Regions from separate parts of the Homo sapiens genome. Here region 2 is linked to region 1. A link means that fine-mapping ties the variant in region 1 to the expression of a gene that starts in the linked region. Tissue or cell type: whole blood. Region 1 holds a variant in brackets; the other region holds the start of a gene. All regions are shown on one strand. Distances are between the middles of the regions.

Region 1 (8,101 bases):
GGCTCACTGCAACCTCTGCCTTCCGGGTTCAAGCAATTCTCCTGCCTCAGCCTCCCAGGTAGCTGGGATTACAGGCACATGCCACCACACCTGGCTAATTTTGTATTTTTTTTAGTAGAGACGGGATTTCACCATGTTGGCCAGGCTGGTCTCAAACTCCTGACCTCAAGTGATCCACCCACCTGGGCCTCCCAAAGTGCTGGGATTACAGGTGTGAGCCACCGCTCCCAGCCTATTTTAAAATTATTTATTTATTTATTTATTTATTTTTGAGACGGGGTTTCCATCTTGTTGCCCAGGCTGGACTGCAATGGTGAGATCTCCACTCACTGCAACCTCTGCCTCCGGGGTTGAAGCGATTCTCCTGCCTCAGCCTCCCAAGTAGTTAGGATTGCAGGTGCCCACCACCACACCCAGCTAATTTTTGTATTTTTAGTAGAGACGGGGTTTCACCATGTTGGTCAGGCTGGTCTCAAACTCCTGACCTCAGGTGATCTGCCTGCCTGGGCCTCCCAAAGTGCTGGAATTACAGGCGTGAGCCACCCGGCCAGTATTTTTAGACAAATGAATAAATGATCATCCATCTTTCTCTGTCACATAGTAAGTACTTGATAGTTATTAAATAAATTGATGATGATATGCTTTCTGGCATACAATAGGAACTCAACACATGAGTATTGCATAAATGAATAAATGACCCACTGTTCATCTCCCCTAGCACATGGGAGGTGCTGGATAAATGACTTTTCATCTCCCCAGATTTCCAGAACTACCTACGGACACAGACAGGGAACACGACCACTATTAACATCATCATTTGCACTGTGGACTACCTCCTGCGGCTGCAGGTGAGGACGTGAGACGGTTCAGGTGTGACTTGGGTCGGGGGCTGCAGGGCCATGGTCGGCCCCAGCACCCCCTCACACCCTACCCGCCCCCACCAGGAATCCATCAGCGACTTCTACTGGTACTACTCGGGCAAGGATGTCATTGAAGAGCAGGGCAAGAGGAACTTCTCCAAAGCCATGTCGGTGGCTAAGCAGGTGTTCAACAGCCTCACTGAGTACATCCAGGTAGGGCGCTCCCCCTGGGGCGGGAGTGGGAAGGGAGGGGGTCCCGCATCGTGATCCCTGATCCCTTCTCGGGGATTCCCTTCCCCCCCACACGGCACTCTGCCTCCCAGGGTCCCTGCACCGGGAACCAGCAGAGCCTGGCGCACAGTCGCCTATGGGACGCAGTGGTGGGATTCCTGCACGTGTTCGCCCACATGATGATGAAGCTCGCTCAGGTTCGAGCCCCTCTGGTCTCCATCCACCTGCTTCCGGGCGTCCCCCAAGTGGTCCATTTCCAAGTCTTGCCCCTTTGGTCAGTTTGTCACCCGAGTGCTCCCGGCATGTTCCAGACTGGTTCCCTCTCAGTGGCCAAATCCATCCTCTTTCTGGATTGGCTGTCTGCATGACCCCGCCTCCTCCTCTGCCCCTCCCTCCCCACCAATCAGCTGGTTTTCCATCCACGCTTCCATTGGTCTGACGTGTTGGCCCCGTCCCAATGGCCGGAGCTCCTCTATGATTGATTGCTGTTTTTCTCTCTGATGAGTCATCGCAGATGTGGACAGTCCTTGGGCTAGGATGGGGCTGGTTTCTAGATTAGAGCCTGGGGCTGAGGAAATGTTTTGCTTCTTTATCTTACTTGCGGCAGATGACACCCATATCAGGCATTCATGATGTAAGGTCCCTGTTGAGCACCACCTTCCATTTCCATAATCCTTGTTCCTCTTTCCCTCACCCCTTTGCAGCCTTGCCAATGTCTCACGAACACTTAATCCATTTGCTCTGCTTCTGTCTGGTAACTATATTCAAGGCTGCCATATACTGTTCCGCAGGTCGTGCACTGCACAAAGGCACGATCTCTGAGAGCATTCACATCCTACACATAATGGTGTATTTATTACAATAGTTTAGTTTTCCAGCAGATGGCAGTAAAGCATCCAGCATGTTATAACTTCCCTACAGGAAGTGTTTTAGGGGACGCCTTTTTTTCTAATTTGCTCAAAGGTGCCCCAGGGGCTGGCAGAAACCCTAATTCGTTGTCATCTGACTTTTTAAAAGGAGTTAAACTTAGAATGCAATTCCTCCGTGTCACAGCAGCTGAAGTTGTGCTGTTGGTATCCTAAAATTCTAGAGAGTGTTGGTATCATCATGTAGAATTCCAAATCCTGCAGGGCTAATTCATCCGCCACCATCTAGTCTAGGTTGCAAAAGCTAGAAATCCAGTGCAAAGTGGTGGCTTAAGAAAAATAAAGAATTTATCAGTTCATATTACAGATCCAGGGCTTAGAGTGATGTCAGCAGAACTGCCTCCTCTTTGACTGCATTTGCAAGCAGGCTGTCTCCCTGGGCTGGAAAAAATGGTGCCTCAGGCTCCTATCCACTCTACTTCTTAACAGCCCTAGAGGGAAGAGATCTCCTCTTTCCTGAAAGCTCCAAGAAAAAAAAAAACCTGAGATTCTCTCTGACTAGCCTATTGGGTCACATGTCCCTCCCTGAACCAATCATCATAGGCTTAGGAAAGAAAGCTTTGACTGACCAGGCCCGGTCATATACCCACCTATAGAACCAGGAGGTAGGGTTAGCCCCATGTGCTCTGACTGTGGGATGGGGGACTCCGCAGGTGAAAATTGAGGGATTGTAAAGAGAGGAGGGGGACTGAATCATGGGTAGGCACAAACCACAGGCGCCCACCCACTGTAAGATCTTGAGATTAGGAGTGTCGGGACCTTAGGCGCAGAATGCAGAGCTTTGGAACTGTGGAAATACATTAGGATTGGAATCAACAACTGATAGAACTAGCATGGGAGCAAAAGATCCTTACATCCCATTTATCTGGTATCATCTCCTCCCCTCTCCATTTTATTTGGTGGAACCATATGAAATTACCACTTTGGATCTGGCACGGTGGCTCATACCTGTAATCCCAGCACTCTGGGAGCCCTAGGCGGGCAGATCACCTGAGGTCAGGAGTTCGAGACCAGCCTCACCAACATGGAGAAACCCCATCTCTGTTAAAAGTAAAAAATTAGCTGGGTATGGTGGCGCATGCCTGTAATCCAGCTACTCGAGAGGCTTAGGCAGGGGAATTGCTTGAACCTGGGAGGCAGAAGTTGCAGTGAGCCGAGATTGCGCCATTAC[A/C]TTCCGGCCTGGGCAACAAGAGCAAAACTCTGTCTCAAAAAGAAAGAAATTACCACTTTGTGAGCCAAAAGTGATCACATGTTGGCAATTTTATGTGACTCAACCTAACATAAATAGGGGCCATGAGGCAAAACTTTGTATTGGAGGTTTCTATGGGCCCTACACTGTGGCCCTATGTTCCCCGCAGACGGCTTACCAGAAAGCACATGGCTGTCTCTGCAGCCTTCCTCCTGAACCCAGAGTCCCACTCTTGCCATCACACATTATATTCAACATACATCTGTCAATCCCACCGTAGGCCAGGCACAGTGCTGGGCTCACATCCCTTCCTAGACCTGGGTCTCTGTCCCCAGTGTTTGTCTCTGTCTGTCTCTGTCTCTCTCTGCCCCAAATGTCTGCCCCGCAAGCCTCTCAGTCCTCCTTGTCTGCCAGCCTTCCCACTACCCATCACCTATCGAGCCCGTCCCCCAAGTGCCAACCCCACCCCCACAATCTTGTCTCTCTGCCCCTTCCCCTGCTTCCGAGGAACATGTCTGGACTCGGGTCCCCTCGGAGGTAAGAGGGGAGAAAACGGGTTTAGGCCCTGCTGGGTAGGTGAGGAGGGGGAGAAGCAACAGAGGTGGGGGAGGTGTATGCTGAGACCAGCCCTCACCGAGCTGGGATCTCTAGGACTCAAGCCAGATCGAGCTGCTGAAGGAGCTGCTGGATCTGCAGAAGGACATGGTGGTGATGTTGCTGTCGCTACTAGAAGGTAAACACCCAGGAGTGAGGGTGAGGGAACAGTAAAGAGGTTCAGAGAAGCCTGAGAATGGCCCCCTGAGACCCGGGAGACCCTAATCCTCAACCCCATCTGACATCGTGTCAGGATCCATGGGTTGATGAAGAAGCCATAATAGGCCAGATGCGGTGGCTACACCTGTAATCCCAGCACTTTGGGAGGCCGAGGTGGGAAGATCACCTGAAGTCAGGAGTTTGAGACCAGCCTGGGCAACATGGTGAGACCCTGTCTCTACTAAAAATACAAAAATTAGCCTAGTGTGGTGGTGTGTGCCTGTAGACCCAGCTACTCGGGAGGCTGAGGTGGGAGGATCACCAGAGCCCGGGAGGTCCAGGCTGCAGTGAGCTGTGATCACACCACTGCACTCCAGCCTGGGTGACAGAGCAAGACCCTGTCTCAAAAAAACAAACCCCAAAAACAAACCAAATGTCCAAATGTGGCAAAAGATAAACAATTGATGAATGTGGATATATTAGGATCCCTTTTTTTTTTTTTTCTTTTCTGAGACGGAGTCTCGCTCTGCCGCTCAGGCTGGAGGTGCGGTGGCGCGATCTCGGCTCACTGCAAGCTCCGCCTCCCAGGTTCACGCCATTCTCCTGCTTGGCCTCCCCGGTAGCTGGGACTACAGGCGCCCGCCACCACACCTGGCTAATTTTTTTTTTTTTTTTTTTGTATTTTTAGTAGAGACGGGGTTTCACCATGTTGGTCAGGATGGTCTGGATCTCCTGACTTCGTGATCCTCCCGCCTCAGCCTCCCAAAGTGCTGGGATTACAGACTTGAGCCACTGCGCCCAGCCTACATTAAAATTTAAAAATTACAAAAATAAACTGGAGCCAAGCTTCAGCTGCTGCCTTTAGAGGGAGTGTGGGATCGCAGTTTGCCAATCTCTACCTCTCCTTGCTGCTTACCACTGGCTAGCCTCAGTCTTCTGTGGACCCTCCTGACTGTGTGTACTGGTGGAAGTTTTAGTTGTGTAAGCCCTGAGGTCATGCAGCTCTGAGTTCAAATCCATTCTCCCCACTTTACTGGCTATGTAACTTTGAGTGCATGACTTTCTCTATGTCTCAGTTTCTCTTCCTAAAAGTAGAGTCACACACTTCCCTTTTTGTGTGATTGTGCCAGGGTAGCATTTGGCACCTACCTTTAGCGTACATCATCATTATCTTTTTTTTTTTTTTTGAGACAGAGTCTCACTCCATCACCCAGGCTGGAGTGCAGTGGCACGATCTCGGCTCTGCAACCTCCGCCTCCCAGGTTCAAGCAATTCTCGTGCCTCAGCCTCCCAAGTAGCTGGAAATACAAGCACATGCCACCACGCCCAGCTGATTTTGTATTTTTAATAGAGACGGGGTTTCACCATGTTGGCCAGGCTGGTCTCAAACTCCTGGCCTCAAGTGATCCACCCACCTCGGTCTCCCAAAGTGCTGGGATTACAGGCGTGAGCCACCACGTCCGACCTGACATCATTAGCTTTACTGGGGGAGGTGGGCAAAGGCAGGATCAGCCAGGTTGGCACAGGAGGCTGACGCAGGTCAGGAAGGGACCTGTGGAGGGGAGGCTGTGGCTGGCCAGGGACACTCCAGCAGCGTGGTGGCTCCTGGGCTGGAAAGAGAGGCAAGCCTGGTGGGGCCCCAGAAGGGAGTGTTCACCGGCCACACTGACCTGGGGCTGCCTGCAGGGAACGTGGTGAACGGCATGATCGCCCGGCAGATGGTGGACATGCTCGTGGAATCCTCATCCAATGTGGAGATGATCCTCAAGTTCTTCGACATGTTCCTGAAACTCAAGGACATTGTGGGCTCTGAAGCCTTCCAGGACTACGTAACGGATCCCCGTGGCCTCATCTCCAAGAAGGACTTCCAGAAGGTGGGTGTGGGACATCGTGTGGGCCCAGGACTTGGGTGGGGTTGCCAAGGGCCAGCCATACCCTTCTGGCTGGCTGCCTCAGGCAAGAGACATCTCTGCAAGCCTCACTTTCCTTGTTTGTAAAATGAGGATAAAACAGTCCTTGGGTTATATGTATTCTGTTTTATTTCATTTTAGAGACAAGGTCTTTCTCTGTTGCCCAGGCTGGAGTGCAGTGGCGTGATCATAGCTCACTGCAGCCTTGACCTCCTGGCTTAAGCAATCCTCCCACCTCAGCCTCCTGAGTAGTTGGGACGACGGGTGTGTGACATCATGCCTGGCTAATTTTTAAGTTTATTTTTTGTAGAGATGTGGTCTCACTACATTACCCAGGCTCCTCTTGAACTCTTGGGCTCCAACAATTCTCCTACCTTGGCCTCCCAAAGTGCTGGGATTATAGGCATGAGCCACCTCGCTCAGCCCCCTTGGGTTATTTTGAGGATGAAATGCATTAACACAGATGAGAACCGTTATTACTGTTATCTTTATTGATAGTCATAACATTATCATTATTGTGAATAGGCATCAGTTATTCCATCAATAAACATTGGCTGGCTTTCTTCTCTGTGTAGGGCCTGTAGTGACACTATTGACGCATCAATGACCAAGATAGACACAGCCCGTGCTTTCATGGGTTTATAGTCTAATGGGGGAGGCAGTCACTAACTAGACCATTCCAAGTCTAAATAATGAGCCTGCTAGGAGGGAAGTGCTGGAACATCCTTATTCAGAAACCCACTCCTCCTCCTCTAACCACCTCTCCCATCCTAACTCTCCATCTTTTCTTCTGAGCCTCAGTTTCCTACTCTGTAAAATGGGGATAGGATAATCACATTAACCACTAACTATTGGCAGTGTGCGGTGGTTCATGCCTATAATCCCAGCAATTTGGGAGGCCGAGGTGGGAGGATCGCTTGAGCCCAAGAGTTCGAGATCAGCCTGGGCAACCTAGTGAAACCCTGTATCTATAAAAATAAAAATAAAACAACTATTAACTATTGTGAGGATGGGCAGTGCGGGCAGTACCTGGAATATGGTGAGTCCTCAAGAGATGTTAGCTGCTATTACTACTCCCTGATCTTTAATGTTACCATTTTGTTAACTTTTTATTTTGAAATAACTTCAGGTTTATAGAGACGTTGCAAGAACAGCACATAGAATTTCTGAATACCTTTCACCCACATTGCCCAAATGTTTTCTATTTACTATTTACTCCATCATGATTTCCCTTTCCTTTCCTTTTTTTTTTTTTTTTTTTTTTTTGAGACGGAGTTTTGCTCTTGTTGCCCAGGCTGGAGTGCAGTGGTGCAATCTCAGCTCAGTGCAACCTCCGCCTCCTGGGTTCAAGCGATTCTCCTGCCTCAGCCTCCTGAGTAGCTGGGATTACAGGCACGCACCACCATGCCCAGCTAAATTTGTGTGTGTGTGTGTGTGTGTGTGTGTGTGTGTGTGTGTGTGTGTGTGTGTTGTATTTTTAGTAGAGATGGGATTTCACCATGTTGGCCAGGCTGGTCTTGAACTCCTGGCCTCAAGTGATCTGCCTGCCTCGGCCTCCCAAAGTGCTGGGATTACAAGCATGAACCACCTCGCCTAGCCAATTTCCCTTTACTTTGAAACACTTCAGCGTGTATCTCCTGAGAACAAATTCATTCTCCTACCTAAGCACAGGACAATTATGCTAATCAGGAAATTAACATTGGCACAATGCTGCTATCTAATCCTAGACCTTATTCAGTTTCCCTTGTTGAATAAATTTCTTTCGTCAATGTCTTTTCTTTGCCAACCCAGAACCAGGGATTGTATTTAGGTGTTCTGTCTGTTTTCCTCCTTCAGTCTGGAACTGTGCCTGGGTCTGTCTTTATCTTTCCTGACATGTTTGAAGAACGCAGGCAAACTGTTTTGTAAAATGTCGTTCAGTGTGGGTTTGTCTGAGTTTTCATCATTATCAGACTAGGGTTATGCATCTTTTGCAGGAATATCAGAGAAGTGATGTGTCCTCAGTGTAATGTATTAGGAGGCACATGTGGTTTCATCCCATTACTGTTTATTTTCTTATTTATTTGTTTTTAGAGTCAGAGTCTTGCTCTATTGCCCCGGCTGGAGTGCAGTCAAACAATCCTAGCTCACTGCATCCTTGACCCCCTGGGCTCAGGCGATCCTCCTGCCTCAGCCACCCAAAGTGCTGGGATTACAGGTGTGAGTCACTGCACCTGGCCAATGTCTCTTCCC
Region 2 (8,101 bases), 110 kb before region 1:
GCCAAGGCAGGCGGATTGGCTGAGCTCAGGAGTTCGAGACCAGCCTGGGCAACACAGTGAAACCCGATCTCTACTAAAATACAAAAGAAATTAGCCAGGTGTGGCAGTATGCGCCTGTAGTCCTGGGGGTGCTGAGGCAGGAGAATTGCTTGAACCCAGGAGGCGGAGGTTGCAGTGAGCCGAGATGGTGCCACTGAACTCCAGCCTGGGCGACAGAGCAAGACTCTGTCTCAAAAAAAAAAAACAAAAAAAAGTGAGCAGGGATCACAATGAGCAGATAACAAAGAAACCCAAAACTCTGATAGGCACTTGAGAAGATGCTAGAAATTGTTGGTAACTCATCAGGGAAGTGGAAATTAAAATGACAGCGAGTCCAGGCGCGGTGGCTCTTGCCTGTAATCCTAACACTTTGGGAAGCTGAGGTAGGAGGATCACTTGAGACCAGCAGTTCAATACCAGCCTGGGCAATATAGTAAGACCCCACCTCTATAAAAAATTTAAAAGTTAGTTGGGCGTGGTGGCACAAGCCTGTTGTCCCAGCTGCTCGGGAGGTTGAGGTGGGAGGATCCCTTGAGCCCAGGAGTTCCGGGCAGCAGTGAACCATAATTGCGCCACTGCACCCCAGCCTGGGCAACAAAGTGAGATCTCATCTCTAAAAATAAAATAGAGAAAATAAATTAAAAAACAGTGAGTCACCCTATATAAATCTGGCAAAAATTAGTTAAGTTGGAAATGCCACATGAGGGTTGGGGATATGGGGACCCGGGGACCCTCATGCACTGGTAGTGAGTAGCCATTCCGAGGGCTACCCAGCACTACTTACACAAATGGTGCGCATGGATATGTCACCCAGCAATTAGCTTCTGGGTACGCACAATAAAACATTCTCCCTCAGCTTCCTGGGGGACCAATACACAGATGTTCCCTCCAGCATTATTTCGGGAGAGCTGGAGGCAGCCTGGGTGTCCGCTCCCAGTAGGGGTAGGTGGAAAAACAGAAGGGATCAGTCACCAGAGAATCCTGCAAAGCCACCACTGTCACACACCAGGTGTCCACAGAGCAACAAGGGTAGGTCTTAAAACACATAATGATGACTGACAAAAATAAGAAACACTATTAATATCTTATGATATAATGCTCAATGACACAGAATCATTTTACATTTACATAAAGTTTTAGGGAAAAACAATATTTAATATACAACTATGCGTTGGATAATGTATAACAGATACAACATAGAATTGTATTGTACTGTATAATTATATTAGCCTAAATATATAATTATATAATTATACATTATATAATGCCAAATTATATAATTCCATAATATGACACAAACTTTTGTGCTATTTATTGCAGTTGTGTTAACATCAGTATTTAATTATGGAACACCTAGAAACCTGCTATACCTTGAAGAACGGTTTCTATGTAATTTTGTTTAACTATGGGATATTGTTTTATATAACTTACTGTATACCACTACATGTTAATAAAAAAAATTTTTTTTTTTTTTTTTGAGGTGGAGCCTTGCTCTGTCACCTGGGCTGGAGTGTAGTGGTACAATCTCGGCTCACTACAACCTCTGCCTCCTGGGCTTAAATGATTCTTGTTCCTCAGCCTCCCAAGTAGCTGGGATTAGAGTCGTGTGACACCATGCCCAGCTAATTTCTGTGTTTTTAGTAGAGTCAGAGTTTCACCATGTTGACCAAGCTGGTCTCAAATTCCTGGCTTCAAGTGATCTGTCTGCCTTGGCCTCCCAACGTGCTGGGATTACAGGCATGAGCCACTGTGTCTGGCCTAGTAATAATTTTAATAGGGCTGGACGTGGTGGTTTACACCTGTAATCCCAGCACTTTGGGAGGCTGAGGTGGGCGAATCATGAGGTCAGGAGTTCGAGACCAGCCTGGCCAACATGGTGAAACCCCGTCTCTACCAAAAATACAAAAATTAGCCGGGTGTGTTGGCAGGTGCCTGTAATCCCAGCTACTCAGGAGGCTGAGGAGGAGAATCGTTTGAACCTGGGAGGTGGAGGTTGCAGTGAGTCAAGATCTTGCCACTGCACTCCAGTCTGGGCAACAAGAGCAAGAGTCCGTCTCAAAATAAATAAATAAATAAATAAATAATAATAATAGCAACACTTACATTACATTAACCAGGCACTGGCACTGTTTTAAGTTTTATCTCATTTAATTAATTATCTCATTTAACTCTCCCAACAACCACGTGAGGTCGGTACTATTAATATTCCCCTTACTGGATGGGGAAACCGAGGCACAGAGAAGCTAAGTGGCTTATCCATGTAACTCAAGGAAGTGGCAAGGCTGGGTGGGATTCAGATCCAGATTATCTGGCTTGGAGTCGGAGTCCTTGTTCTTTTTTTTTTTTTTTTCAGACGAAGTCTCGCCCAGGCTGGAGTGCAGTGGCTCAATCTCGGCTCACTGCAGCTTCTGCCTCCCGAATTCAAGGAGTTCAAGCAATTCTCCTGCCTCAGTTTCCCAAGTGGCTGGGATTACAAGCATGTGTCACCACGCCTGGCTAATTTTTGTACTTTTAGTAGAGACGGGGGTTTCACCATGTTGGCCAGGCTGGCCTCGAACTCCTGACCTCAAGTGATCCACCCACCTCGGCGTCCCAAAGTGCTGAGATTACAGGGGTGAGCCACCACTCCCGGCCGGAGTCCTTGTTCTTAATCACTATGTTTGGTGCTTTTTAAAGTCAGGAGATCTGGTGCACATCCCTGCTCTGCTGCGTGATATCTTGCAAGAACTTCCCCACTCAGAGCCTCAGTCTGCCCTCTGTGAAATGGGAGAATGATGGCACGTTACTTACCGTGGTGGGGAGAAAGCGCAGGTACCTCCTAGATACTCTCTCTCCCACCCCACCTCCGGCGGCCAACGGCCAAGCAAACCTCCAGCCAAGATTTGGGGTATGTGGGCAGGGCTCCGGCGAAGGGGAGTGGCCGGGGAGTCCTGGTCCAATGGGGCCCGGGGGCGGGGACTTCCTCCCATCTCTGTCCAGCATGCGTGTACTCCTCGCAGTTCCATCTACCTCGCGGGTGCCTCTGGTGTCTCCAGAGGTCTCCGACCCCAGCCCGCCCCCAGCCCTCCCGCCCAGCCCGCAGCCCCCTCCCTCTGTTCCCCGACCTCAGACCCTGGGCTTCCGACCTCGACATCATGGGTGACGCAGAAGGCGAAGACGAGGTCCAGTTCCTGCGGACGGTGCGTATCTCTGGGTTAGGGGCCTGTGGGGCTATCTCTTGGGGCTCTCTGAGGGTCTCTCTGTCTCTGAATGTCCCTGTCCGGCTTGCTGGTGGTCTCTGAGACTCGAGGTCTCTTCCTATGTCACTTTGAGTGACTGTCACTCTGTCTTTTAGTCTCCTTCACCTTTCTCACTACAGAGAATTAGTAGGATTGGGGACTCCAGAATGGGAAAGGGATCTTCGGTTGCCCTCTCTTCTGACTTTAGCGATTTGTCCCCCACAAGAAGGACCCCCGAGGGAGCACACCCTCACACCATCTTGGAAGCAGGCACTTGGGGAAGGTGGTTCTAATTCCTGGGCTTGATTTAGCCATCCCCCCACCCCCACCTTAGCCCTAATTCTCTTTTTGCTCCAGACTCTGACCTATTTAAATTCTTGAGAAGGGAGCTGGAGTGAGCTGGAGGACACAGCTGCTTCCAACTCCTAGCCCTTGAGGGTCTTGTGGGGGAGGGATCTCTTGGGTTCTGGGTCTTTCTTTCCTTCTTCGTTTTGGGCAGGAGGGCTGCTCCCAATGGCTGCTAATGGTCTTGCAGGGTCTCTGGGTGGTGTCTCTCCCCATCTGTCTCTTTGGGTGTCTCCATGTCTCTGTCTCTTCCTCCATCTCAGTCTCCCTGTCTCTGTTTCTTAGCTTAAGGCCCTCTGATTTTCGCTGTCTCTCTAGCTGGGTTACTCCCTGCATCTGAGCCCCAGCTGGGGGCAGGGATGGGAATTGGAACAACAGGTGTCCCTCCCAGAATAGCCGGCTTTTCTGGGGCCTGGGCAGGGGATGGGGAGGGGATGAGAGGGAGGAGGGGCTGCCATCTCCTTGTCCTTCCCATCTTCCCCTCCCAGTGGCTCCGCAGGGTGTGGGGTCGTAAATATGGGAGGGGACGTCCTCTCCTCTGGGCTAGGTCTGCTGACCAGACGCTAGCCCCGCCCCTCCCCCCGGGGCCCTGGAGCCACACAGGAAATGCTGACACAGCATTCCTGCCCCAGAATAGGACCCTGGCGAGCCGGGTCCGGTTTCCTGGGAGAGAGGAACAAACAGCTGGGGCTGGTAGTGAAGGATGGGGACAGCTGGGAAGGGGCCTAGCTTCAGCCGAGACTCTCTCCCCAGCCCCAGCCCCTCAGCAGACACCATGGGTCGGGCCCTCCCCAGCCCTAATAAGACCATGGCCATGGCCACTGGCTCTTGAGCTGTCGCTCTAAACCAGGCCCTGTGCCCTGGGCCTCTGCCTCCTGAGACATCTAATTATATCCTTGCTGCCCTGTCTTCTGAGGTAGGGTCCTATCTTTATCTCCCTGACAGATTTGAGGGAAACCAAGGCCCGAATGGTAGAATCACTCACCCAAGGTCAAGGCCAGGAAGTGGCATCTCTGGATGCCCCTGGTGCCCAGCCCCATTGCCTTCACCAGAGAAAATCTGGGCCCAGACTTGCCAAAGTAGTCAGCGTTAGGGTTCTGGAGGCTTGGCCCTGGAATCTCTCCACCCCAGACTGGGTCAGTTTTTCTGATTGTTACTGAGGTCGTGGTGGATTTCTCAAAACTTTCTGGAGGCTGGGCTCAGTGGCTCATGCCTGTAATCTCAGCACTTTGGGAGGCCAAGGTGAGCGGATCACTTGAGGTCAGGAGTTTGAGACCAGCCTGGCCAACATGGTGAAACCCCGTCTCTACTAAAAATACAAAAAAATATTAGCCAGGCGTGGTGGTGCATGCCTGTAATCTTAGCTACTCGGGAGGCTGAAGTGGGAGGATTGCTTGAACCTGGGAGGCAGAGGTTGCAGTGAGCCGAGATTGCGCCACTGCACACTCCAGCCTGGGCGACAGGGCGAGACTCCATCTCAGAACAAAAAACCTTCTGGACCACATCCCGCCCATAAGAAACATTCTGTCTTACAACTCAGTACATGCACACATGCATAGACATGACTAAAAACCAACTTTATTGAGGTATAATTGACCTGCAATAAATTTTACCCAGTTTATGTGTTCAATGAGTTGTTTTGTTTTTGTTTATTTATTTATTTTTTTGAGATGGAGTTTCACTCTTGTTGCCCAGACTGGAGTGCAATGGCGTGATCGCAGCTCACTGCAACCTCTGCCTCCTGGGTTCAAGCGATTCTTCTGCCTCAGCCTCCTGAGTAGCTGGGATTACAGGCGCGTGCCACCAAGCCGAGCTAATTTTTTGTATTTTTAGTAGAGATGGGGTTTCACCATGTTGGCCAGGCTGGTCTTGAACTCCTGACCTCAGATGATCCACCCATCTTGGCCTCCCAAGGTGCTGGGATTACAGGTGTGAGCCACCACGCCCGGCCTTTTTTTTTCTTTTTGAGACAGAGTCTCAATCTGTTGCCCAGGCTGGAGTACAGCAGTTTGGTGGTTGGTTCAACGCAACCTCCACTTCCCAGGCTCCAGTGATCCTCCCACCTCAGCCTCCTGAGTAGCTGGGACTACACGTGCATAGCACCATGCTTGGCTAATTTGTAAAATTTTTTGTAGAGGTGAGGTCTCACTATATTGCCCAGGCTGGTGTCAAACTCCTGGGCTCAAGAAATCCTCCGGCCTTGGCCTCCCAAAGTTTTGGGATTACAGGCATAAGCCACCATGCCCGGCCTTTCTTCTTTCACTCAGCATAATATTTTTGACATTCATCCATGTAGCATGTATTGAGTTTGTTGCTTTTTGTTGCCGAATATTATTCCATTGTGCGACTATACTGTGGTGTGTTTATCAGTTCACCTGCTGATGGACATTTGAGTCGTCTCCAATTTTTACTATTATAGACAACACAGGGCCTGTGACCATTCACTTGTACCTATTTTTAACTGAAACAAGTCTCATAAAATGTAGATGGCCCCTGAAGCATGATGGGCACGCTGTGATTTTCTATTCTTGCTCCATTTTGCTTCGTTTGGTTAAGTATGATGGCCACAGCCCCCCCAAACTGATTTCACTTCCCTTTGGTGGGTGGTGACCTCTACCCTTACCCAGGCTGGGGTTTCTCAAACCCTGGCCCAAGTTAGAAGCTCCTGGGGTCTGGTAAACAGTACGTATTCCCTGCTGACCCCAAATCAGGCTCTTGATGGTGGTAGGGGACTGGGCCAGCAGGGAAGCTATATTTTTAACCAGAACCCTCCGCTTCCTTCATTTTTTTTTTCTTTTTCTTTTTTTTTTAAGATGGAGTCTTCCTTTGTAGCCCAGGCTGGAGTGCAATGGCACAATCTCGGCTCACTGCAACCTCCGCCTCCTGGGTTCAAGCGATTCTCCTGTCTCAGCCTCCCGAGTAGCTGGGATTACAGGCATGCACCACTACGCCCGGCTAATTTTTGTACTTTTAATAGAGATGGGGTTTCACCATGTTGGCCAGGCTGGTCTCGAACTCCTGACCTCAAGTGATGCGCCCACCTTGGCCTCCCAAAGTGCTGGGATTACAGGAATGAGCCACCTCGCCCAGCCTGCCTTCATTCTAATTCAGGAAAAGTTTGAGAATCAATGTGGTAATGATTGGGCTCTCTGTCGCTGCTTTGCACTCTGGCTTTGCCATTTGCCTGCTTCCTAATTTGGGGCAAGTGATTTTTATTTTTCTCTCTGAGCCTCAGTGTTCTCATCTGGAAAATGGGGACAAGATTATATACAATAGCCAGACCCCATGGCTCACACCTGTAATCCCTTCGCTTTGGGAGGCTGAAGCAGGACGATTGCTTGAGGCCGGGAGTTCAAAAACAGCCTGGGCAACATAGGGAGACCTTGTCTTTACAAAAAATGTTAAACTTTAGCTGGGCGTGGCAGTGTGCACCTGTAGTACCAGCTACTTGGGAGGCTGAGGTGGGAAGATCACTTGAAACCAGGAGTCGGAAGCTGCAGTGAGCTGTGATCTCGCCACTGCACTCCAGTCTGGGCAACAGAGCAAGACCCTGTGTCTACAAAAATATATATATCTTAAATTAGCTGGGTGTGGTGGCATGAGCCTGCAGTCATAGCTTCTCAGGAGGCTGAATGGAGAGGATCACTCAGCCTAGGAGTCCAAGGCTGCAGTGAGCTATGATCGTACCACTGCACTCCACCCCAGGAGACAGAGTGAGACCCAGTCTCTTAAAAAAAAAAAAAAAGTTATTTTTCAAGGGGCCCATGCAAGTATCTCTCTGACCTCATCTCCTCCCTGTTTGCCCCTCCTCCTTGCGGCCACCATCCTGCTCCATCTCCTGTGCTGTCCCTCAACACCCCAGCACCCAGACTCCCTCCTCTTACCCCAGAGATGAGCAGGCCTGATTCCTTCTTGTTATTTGGACAAGGCTCAACTCAAATGTCACCTCCTTGGAGAGGCTGTCACTTCACTCCCTCACTGATCTCATCCCCATCCTAAAAGCCACTCTCTTACATCAGCCTGGGTTATTTTTTCTATAACACCTATCACTGACATTAACATTACATATTAATTCACCTGTTTATTCCCTGTCTCCACCATGAGGATTTAAGCTCCCTGAGGGCCGTGATTTTTTTTTTTTCCTTTTGAGACATGGTCTCAATCTGTCTCAGGGGCCCCAGGGAGGTGGGGCTTGATTATGACTCACTGCAGCCTCGATTTCCCAGGCTTGGCAGTCCTCCCACCTCAGCCTCCCGAGTAGCAGGGACTACAGGAACATACCACCATGCTCGGCTAATTTTTAATTTTTAACTTTTGTAGAGATGGGGGTCTCATTATGTATATTGCCCAGGCTAGTCTTTTTTTTTTTTTTTTTTTTGAGATGGAGTCTCGCTCTGTCACCCAGGCTCGAGTTCAGTGGTGCGATCTCGGCTCACTACAAGCTCCGCCTCCCAGGTTCACACCATTCTCCTGCCTCAGCCTCCCGAGTAGCTGGGACT

Evidence for each region. PIP is the estimated chance that this variant, and not a neighbour inherited with it, causes the effect.
Region 2: it holds the start of RYR1, and the variant in region 1 is fine-mapped to the expression of RYR1 in whole blood (TOPMed, PIP 0.94).

What each region holds. Positions count from the first base shown.
Region 1 is chr19:38,542,588-38,550,688 of GRCh38, forward strand. RYR1 (ryanodine receptor 1) reads left to right here. Exons shown (of 106, transcript NM_000540.3): 85 at 760-848; 86 at 945-1,073; 87 at 1,184-1,288; 88 at 3,858-3,939; 89 at 5,646-5,833. Among named protein-coding and RNA genes, the nearest start is that of MAP4K1-AS1, 50 kb to the right of the region's middle. RefSeq lists enhancers at 1,606-1,665, 2,016-2,105. The variant A/C (reference allele first, on the strand shown) is at 3,189.
Region 2 is chr19:38,430,657-38,438,757 of GRCh38, forward strand. RYR1 (ryanodine receptor 1) reads left to right here and starts at 3,035. Exons shown (of 106, transcript NM_000540.3): 1 at 3,035-3,218. The coding sequence starts at 3,174. RefSeq lists a silencer at 2,918-3,057 and an enhancer at 3,789-4,364.